2 separate regions of the Homo sapiens genome follow, and region 1 is linked to region 2. The links come from fine-mapping of genetic effects on gene expression. Tissue or cell type: whole blood. Region 2 holds a variant in brackets; the other region holds the start of a gene. All regions are shown on one strand. Distances are from middle to middle.

The links. PIP is the estimated chance that this variant, and not a neighbour inherited with it, causes the effect.
Region 1: it holds the start of ZNRF1, and the variant in region 2 is the best candidate, but not a certain one, in a credible set for the expression of ZNRF1 in whole blood (INTERVAL, PIP 0.52).

The regions. Positions count from the first base shown.
Region 1 is chr16:74,997,411-75,001,605 of GRCh38, reverse strand. ZNRF1 (zinc and ring finger 1) reads right to left here and starts at 2,582. Exons shown (of 5, transcript NM_032268.5): 1 at 1,511-2,582. The coding sequence starts at 1,934. RefSeq lists an enhancer at 711-770 and silencers at 1,561-1,870, 2,271-2,790.
Region 2 is chr16:75,132,156-75,136,294 of GRCh38, reverse strand. It overlaps a transcript of ZFP1 not described here. Among named protein-coding and RNA genes, the nearest start is that of ZFP1, 14 kb to the left of the region's middle. The variant G/A (reference allele first, on the strand shown) is at 2,268.

The DNA.
Region 1 (4,195 bases), 130 kb after region 2:
ATATGGCTAACTCTCTGGACTAAATTCCATAGGAAAAATTATTAATTTCAAAATGCCTAATTTTGATCAAATGCCTGAAAGAGCCAAAGGCAATCATGTCCTGCTTCTCACTCAGGGCAGAGTTCCATGAGGTCAGAAAAGCTCCAATGATATCCGGAGGTCTGTCAGAGATTAAAATATCATCCTAACAATTCACAAGCTACTTCTAAGTGTTACCCTAAATTAGTCACTAATCGTTTCTCCCCCAACACTATTTCACAAATTAAAGTTTACAGAATTGACAAAAAACCAAACCAAATGAAAACAAACCCCAGGCTATTTGCAGGGGGGGGGAAAGAGATACCCCAAAAGTCAACCCTATTTCACAGTAGTTAAAAGAGTGATCCAACAGATATTACCCTCCATAAAGTACCCTAAAGGCAGGAGCAATCTTTCCCCTACACTATCTAAATTTTCCCAACTCACCCAAAAGAATCTTAAGATGTAACTTCATCACTCAACTTGCCAATTAGCAAATAGCGGCCCCCACATCCCTTTTGGCCAATTTTCTAGATGCCTGACCTAGCAGACAGACCTGTTTTCCTCCTGCCAGGCCTTTTTTGCCCTCCCGCTAGGAGCCTGGGAAATCCCCCTCCAACCTTTTGCTGGCCTGTCACCAGAAGTTCATAAAATGAATTCATCCAGATTCTCTGAATCCTCCTTTTCCCCAGTCATGTGCCAACAGCCAGGCAATAATGCCCCACCGTGACAGGCTCCCTGTTACAAAAAGATGCAGATTCACGGGAAGACCAAGCACTTAGCATGGAGCAGAAGAAAAAAAGATGGAGGGAGGCGAGAGTCGCGGAGCCAAGCCTGCTGCATGCAGTACGGGTGACCACAGCCCGGGTCCTGCAAAGCCCCCGCGAGACTCGCCGGCTGGGCCCTCCGTACAGCAGCCACACCTGTCTATGCCAGCCGCCTGCCGGCTGCTCCATTTTAAACATTTCAAACAGATCTCCAGCAGGGTGGCAAAACTGGGCACCTCTCTCTCCCAGCAAGAGTGAGAGCCCTAATCCAGGCATCACTTGCCCCTGATTTTATTTCATTTTCACACACTCTGTTTAGGAGACACTGCTTGCTCCAACTGGCTCCATCTCTCCGTTACCGGTGAGGCAGGCACAGTGCTGCAGTGGCAGAATGGAAGTACCCAGGCTGACTTGCTCTCAGCCAGACACGACCTCTTCTCTGAGGAGGGTGATGCCAATAAATGGAACTCCAATAGGTAGGCTTCGCTCTGCCCTTCCACAAGTGAACACACGCCGTGAGTCCCTAAATCGCCAGGCTCCGCAGCCTCGCAGAAAGCCTAGTTTCCAGACGGTAGGTATCCCATTTATCCCTTGGCATCGGGAACCAAAGGGAATGCAGACAGATCCCGGTCGTGCACTACATTCCCAAACCTTGGCACGCACGCGAAGGCTTGGGGCGCCCCGGCGCGCCCTCCCTCCGAGGCCTCCACCACCCGCGGACTCACCACTATGCGAGCTGAACCACCTGGGTGCGATGTGCAGAGGTAGAGCATCCGCCAGCGAGGCTCGGGAGCCCAGGTACAGCATCCCGTCTCTATGGTGACCGCCGCCCGTCTCCTGGTAACCATTGCCATGGGCATAGGTGGAGTCGGACGCAGACCCTCCGCCGCCGGGCGCCCTCTCGGAGTCGCCGGTGCCCCGGGAGGCGGGGGTGTAGAGGCCAAAGGGCACCCCCCCGGCCGTGCTGGGGTCCATGCCCATGCCTGCCACCGAGCTGACCGAGCGGCTGCGCAGCCCCATGGCCCCGCCGCCCGTCCGGTAGTGCCCGAAATGGGGCGCCCCTCCCGGCGGCGGCACGGCGCTGTCATCGGTGGAGACCCCCGGGAAGGGGCCCCGGGAGCGGGCCGCCGTGCTCTGCTTGCCCCCCATGCTCGCCCGGGCCCCGGTGGGGCGGGAACCTGGAGGCCGAGACCCTCCCCCACTTCTCAGCAGCAGGGGGAGGGCTGGGCGAGCATAAAGGGGGAGGGAGTCAAAAAGGAGACCCGGAGGGAGAAAAGGAAAAAAAGCAAAAGGAAAAAAGGAAAAAACCCGCGGGGCGGAAGAGGCAGGCGGGCGGGCGGGGATCCCAAACTCAGAATTTCAAACGATCCAAGGCAAACGCATGTTTCCCCTCAAGGTCCAAAGAGGCGCAGTCCGGCGCGGGCTCCGCGCGCCACAGGCCGCCCCCGGGCTCCGAAAGCCGGGGGAGCCGCAGGGAAGGAGGGAGGGAGGCGGCGGCGAGCGGCGGGCGGGCGCGGGGAGGCGCCGGAGGAGGCCGCCCGCCCCGCGGGAGGAGGCGGAGGAGGGCCGGGGGCGCCGGGCGCGTCCCCCGCCTCAGGACGCCGCGACCATGGACGGCGGCCCGGACCCCTCCAGGCCTCGGGCGGGCCGCGGCGCTGGGCGGCCAGGCGCAGCTCGGGAAGCCGCGGTCGCGTCGCGTCGCGCTCTCGCTTCAGCCGCCGCCGGCCCCGCCAGCCGCGCCGCCCCGCTCGGTCCCGGGCTGCGCTCGCCGGCGCTCCTCGCCGCCGTGGAGACAATGGAGGGCGGCAGAGCGCAGGCGCGGCCCGCGCCCCCTCCCCCTCCCCCCGCCGGGTTAACCCTTTCGCGGTCCCTGCGGCGCCTGGGCCGCTGACGCCCCAGCAGTCCCCACCCACCGCCCGCCCCCGGCCGGCCTGTGACCTGGGCGGCCTGACCACTGGGCGTTAGCCACAGAAACCAGATGTCTTTCAAAAGCAAACACTTCTTAAGTCCCCGAAAGTGGCAAATTATTCAGGGGGAACCAAGTATGGGGGAGGGGCAGCAATGGTTCGAGGGGGTGGGAAGGAAACACCGGGAAGAAGGAGATTTACTCCTTACGCCTACCTGGCTCTGAGGGTCACCGGTCGAGCTCCCCTCCTGGCACAAATTTGCCCCCACAGCACCCTCTGGTGGACGTGATGTCCATTCTTTCGGGGGTTCCCCATCCAAGCACCCCTCACGTCCGGAATCTCAACATTTGGCGGGGTTTAGTTATTTGGGGGTAAACAGCGCCATGGGGACACTTGTGAATCCGGCGTTTTGCTGACACTAGATCATAACTTCCTATTTTGGGCTTAAGCAAATGAGTAGATTCCTTAGCTAAAATGTAATTTTCAGAATCAATAGATGTACCATAAAAAGTGAATAGATATGGGTATGGAAATAGAACAACGCAGCTAGAAGTGATTATAGAAACCTTCTGTCCAAGGCTGGAGCCCTGTTTTGTTTACCATGTGCTGTGTTTCGGCCCTCACCACGGGCCAAGGACACGGTGGGTACTCAATAGGTGTATTGTTGACCAAGCCTGAATCATTTGCAAGGGAGTGTTCCTTTGCTACCTCAAGCCGTCTTTCTCCTATATTCACATTCATTTATTGAACAACTGTTTTTTTTGTTTTGTTTTGTTTTTGTTTTTGAGACGTAATCTCGCCCTGTCACCCAGGCTGGAGTGGTGTGGCGTAACCTCGGCTCACCGCAACCTCCGCCTCCCGGATTCAAGTGATTCTCCTGCCTCAGCCTCCCGAGTAGCTGGGATTACAGGCACATGCCACACTGCACCTGGCTAATTTTTTGTATTTTTAGTAGAGGCGGGGTTTCACCGTATTGGCCAGGCTGGTCTTGAACTCCTGACCTCAGGTAATCCACCTGCCTTGGCCTCCCAAAGTGTTAGGATTACAGGCATGAGCCACCGCGCCCGCCCTGTTTTTCTTTTTCTTTTTTTTCTTTTCTTTTTTTTTTTTTTTGAGACGGAGCCTTGCTCCTCCCAGGCTGGACAACCTCCGCCTTCCAGGTTCAAGTGATTCTTCTGCCTCAGCCTCCCGAGTAAAAGTCTGTTAAAAATTTCAAAATCAGGCCGGGCACGGTGGCTCATGCTTGTAATTCCAGCACTGTGGGAGGCTGGGGGTGGGGGGGTGGGGGGAGATGGGGCAGGGGATCACCTGAGGTTAGGAGTTTGCAACCAGCCTGACCAACATGGTGAAACCTCATTTCTACTAAAAAAAAATGAAAATAAAAAATAAATAAATTAGCCAGGTGTGGTAGCTCACGCCTGTGATCCCAGCTACTTGGGTAGCTGAGGCAGGAGAATGGCTTGAACCCGCGAGACAGAGGTTGCAATGGGCTGAGATCGCGTC
Region 2 (4,139 bases):
TTACTTTTACAAATTCCATTCAGTTCCAAAGTTACTTATGTCAGCGCCTTTTTCCCCAACCCTCTTCAGTGGGGCTGTTTTATACATTTAGAAAGAAAAAGTTAGATTCTCTTGCCACCATCTGCATTTTTTCCTGGGACTCCCCCGACTTCCTAAATGATCTTTTAAAAATTTGCCTTAGCTGGGCGTGGTGGCTCATGCCTATAATCCCAGCACTTTGGGAGACAGAGGTGGGTGGATAACTTGAGGTCAGAAGTTCGAGACTAGCCTGGCCAACATGACGAAAACCCATCTCTACTAAAAATATAAAAATTAGCCAGGCATGGCGGCGGGTGCCTGTAATCCCAGTTACTCGGGAGGCTGAGGCAGGAGAATCGCCTGAAACCCAAGAGGTGGAGGTTGCAGTGAGCCAAGATTGGGCCACTGTACTCCAGCCTGGGTGACAAAGTGAGACTCCGTCTCAAAAAATAAATAACCAAATTAATTAATGAATAATAAAGATAAAAACTTGTCTGTATTGTTTCACTCAGTGTGGTAAAGTTCTATAGGTTTTGACAAATGCACAATGTCATGTATGTACCATTATAGTACCATACAGAAGGGTTTCACCACCCTCAACATCCTTTGTTCTTCATTATTTATCCCTCCCACCTTGAACACCTGGCAATCACTAAATTTATTCCCTCCCAGACAGGGTCTCACTCTGTTGCCCAGACTCGAGGACAGCTTTGAACTCCTGGGCTTACCAATCCTCTCACCTTGTCCTCCCAAAGTGTTGGAATTGATTACAGGCTGGAGCCACTGTTACCAGCTAATCACTAATCTTTTTACTGTCCCTATGGTTTTATCTTTTCCAGAATGTCATGTGGATGGAATAATACAGTATATAGTCTTTTGAGACTGACTTCTATCACTTAGCAATATGCATTTAAGGTTCCTCTGTGTTATTTTGTGTTAAGGTTCTTCTTTGTCTTTTTGTGACTTGATAGCTCATTTTTAGAATTGCTGATTAACGTTCCACTGTATGAATGAGTGAAGGATCTCTTGGCTGTTTCCAGTGGTTTTTTTTTTTTTTTTTTTTTTTTGAGATAAGGTCTCACTCTGTCACCCAGGCTGGAGTGCAGTGTTGTGATCATGGCTCATTGCACGCTGTAACTCCTGGGTTCAAGCAATCCTTCTACGTCAGCCTTCTAAGCAGCTGGGATTACAGGCACCAGCTAGTTTTTTTTGTTTTTTTTTTGAGATGGAGTTTCACTGTTGTTGCCCAGGCTGAAGTGCAATGGCACGATCTCAGCTTATCGCAAACACCGCCTCCTGGGTTCAAGCGACTCTCCTGCCTCAGCCTCCCGAGTAGCTGGGATTACAGGCATGCGCCACCACACCTGGCTTTTGTATTTTTAGTAGAGATGGGGTTTCTCCATGTTGGTCAGGCTGGTCTTGAACTCCAGACCTCAGGTGATCCGCCCGCCTCGGCCTCCCCAAGTGCTGGGATTACAGGCATGAACCACCACGCCCAGACAGGCCTGGCTAATTTTTTTTTTTTTGAGGCGGAGACTTGCTGTGTTGCCCAGGCTGGAGTGCAGTGGTGCGATCTTGGCTCACTGCAAGCTCTGCCTCCCGGTTCACGCCATTCTCCTGCCTCAGCCTCCTGAGTAGCTGGGACTACAGGTGCCCGCCACCACGCCTGGCTAATTTTTTGTATTTTTAGTAGAGACGGGGTTTCACCATGTTAGCCAGGTCTCGATCTCCTGACCTTGTGATCCACCCGCCTCGGCCTCCCAAAGTGCCGGGATTACAGGTGTGAGCCACCGCGCCCAGCCCAGGCCTGGCTAATTTTTAAAAATGTTTTTTGGGGATGGGATCTGGCTATTGATGCCCAGGCTGGTCACAAACTCCTGGGCTCAAGTTCATTATCTTTAATGACCAACTTAATATTACAAAGAAGCCAAATTTCACAAAATTAATAAACTAATTATTGAATTCAATCTCAATCAAAATTCCAATTAGAATTAAAAAAATTTTTTTGAGATAAAATTCACCTAACATAACATTCAGAATTTTTACCATTTTAAAGTGTGTAAGTCAGTAGTTCTTAGAATATTCATAATATTGCACAACCATCACCGCTATCTAATTCCAGAATATTCTCATCATCTTGAAAGAAATCCTATACCTTTCAATTCCCTGTCCCCCAATCCAGGTGGAATTTTTAAGGCCTAAAACTTATTGTTATTATTATTATTTCTGAGACAGGGTCTTGCTCTATC[G/A]CCCAGGCTGGAGTGCAGTGGCACGATCTTGGCTCACTGCAACCTCCACCTCCTGGGTTCAAGAGATTCTCCTGCCTCAGCCTCCCAAGTAGCTGGGGCTACAGGCATGCACCAGCACGCCTGGCTAATTTTTGTATTTTTATTACAGACGGGGTTTCACCATGTTGGCCAGGCTGCTCTCGAATGCCTGGCCTCAAGTGATCCACCCGCCTCAGCCTCCCAAAGTGCTGGGATTACAGGCGTGAGTTACCATGCCTGGCAGAAGATCTAAAACTTATTCTAAAATGTACATGGACACACAACATCATCTGTGAAGTAGTCTTGCCAAAGAAAGCGGAATCTGAATCCAATCAAGCCTCTGAATATGTGCTGTCCAATATAATAGCCACTCAAAATTAAAATGAATTAAAATAAAATTATGCAGCCATGAAAAAGATCATGTCTTTTGTGGGAACATGGATGGAGATGGAGGCCATCATCCTTAGGAAACTAACACAGGAACAGAAAACACAGGTTCTCACTTATAAGTGGGAGCTAAATGATAAGAATTTATAAACACAGAGAAGGAAACAACAGATGCTGGGGTCTATCTGACGGTGGAGGGTGGGAGGAGAGGAGCAGAAAAGGTAACTATTGAATACTGGGCGTAATTCCTGGGTGATGAAATAATCTATACAGCAAACCCCCATGACATGAGTTTACCTATGTAACAAATCTGCGCATGTACCCCCGAATCTAAAATAAAAGTTAAAGGCCAGGCACGGTGGCTCACACTGTAATCCCAGCACTTTGGGAGGCCAAAGCGGGCAGATCACCGGAGGTCAGGAGTTCGAGACCAGCCTGGCCAACATGGCGAAACCCTGTCTCTACTAAAAATACAAAATTAGCTGGGCGTGGTGGCATGCACCTGTAATCCCAGCTACTTGGGAGGCTGAAGCAGGAGACTCGCTTGAACCCAGCAGGTAGAGGTTGTGGTGAGCCAAGATCGCACCACTGCACTCCAGCCTGGGTGACAGGGCAAGACTCCGTCTTGAAAAAAAAAAAGTTAAAAAATCTTAAAATGAAATGAGGCTGGGCGTGGTGGCTCATGCCTGTAATCAAGCACTTTGGGAGGTTGAGGTGGATGGATCACCTGAGGTCAGGAGTTTGAGACCAGCCTGGCCAACATGGTGAAACTTCATCTCTACTAAAAAAAAAAAAAATACTAGCCATGTGTGGTGGTGAATGCCTGTAATCCCAGCTACACAGGAGGCTGAGGCAAGAGAACCACTTGAACTCAGGAGGCAGAGGTTGCAGCGAGCCGAGATTGGGCCACTGCACTCCAGCCTGGGCAACAGAGTGAGACTCTGTCTCGGAAAAAAAAAAAAAAAAAAAAGAAATGAAATGAAATAGACAATTGAGTTACCTTAGCCACATTTTGAATGCTCCATAGCAATGCATGACCACTGGCTACAAAGTGGGAAGCGCAGATCTAGCATGGTTCCATCAGAGCAGAAAGTTGTACTGGCCAGCATCTCACCTAGATATAATAGTTCATAAGAAATACAGAGATTAGAGAAATATATTCAATACCACAAGGATGCAATCACCCAAATACAGAATATGGAAATTTCTACAGAACAAATGACCCTGCTTCATTTTTTTTTTTTTTGAGACAGGGTCTCACTCTGTTGCTCAGTGGCATGATCTTGTCTCACTGCAAACTCTGCTTCCCAGACTCAAGTGATCCTCCCACTTCAGCCTCCCAAGTAGCTGTGACTACAGGCATATGCCGCCATGCCTGGCTAATTTTTTATATCTTTGGTAGAGATGGGGTTTCGCTATGTTGCCCAGGCTGGTCTCAAACTTCTGACCTCAAGTGATCTCCCCGCC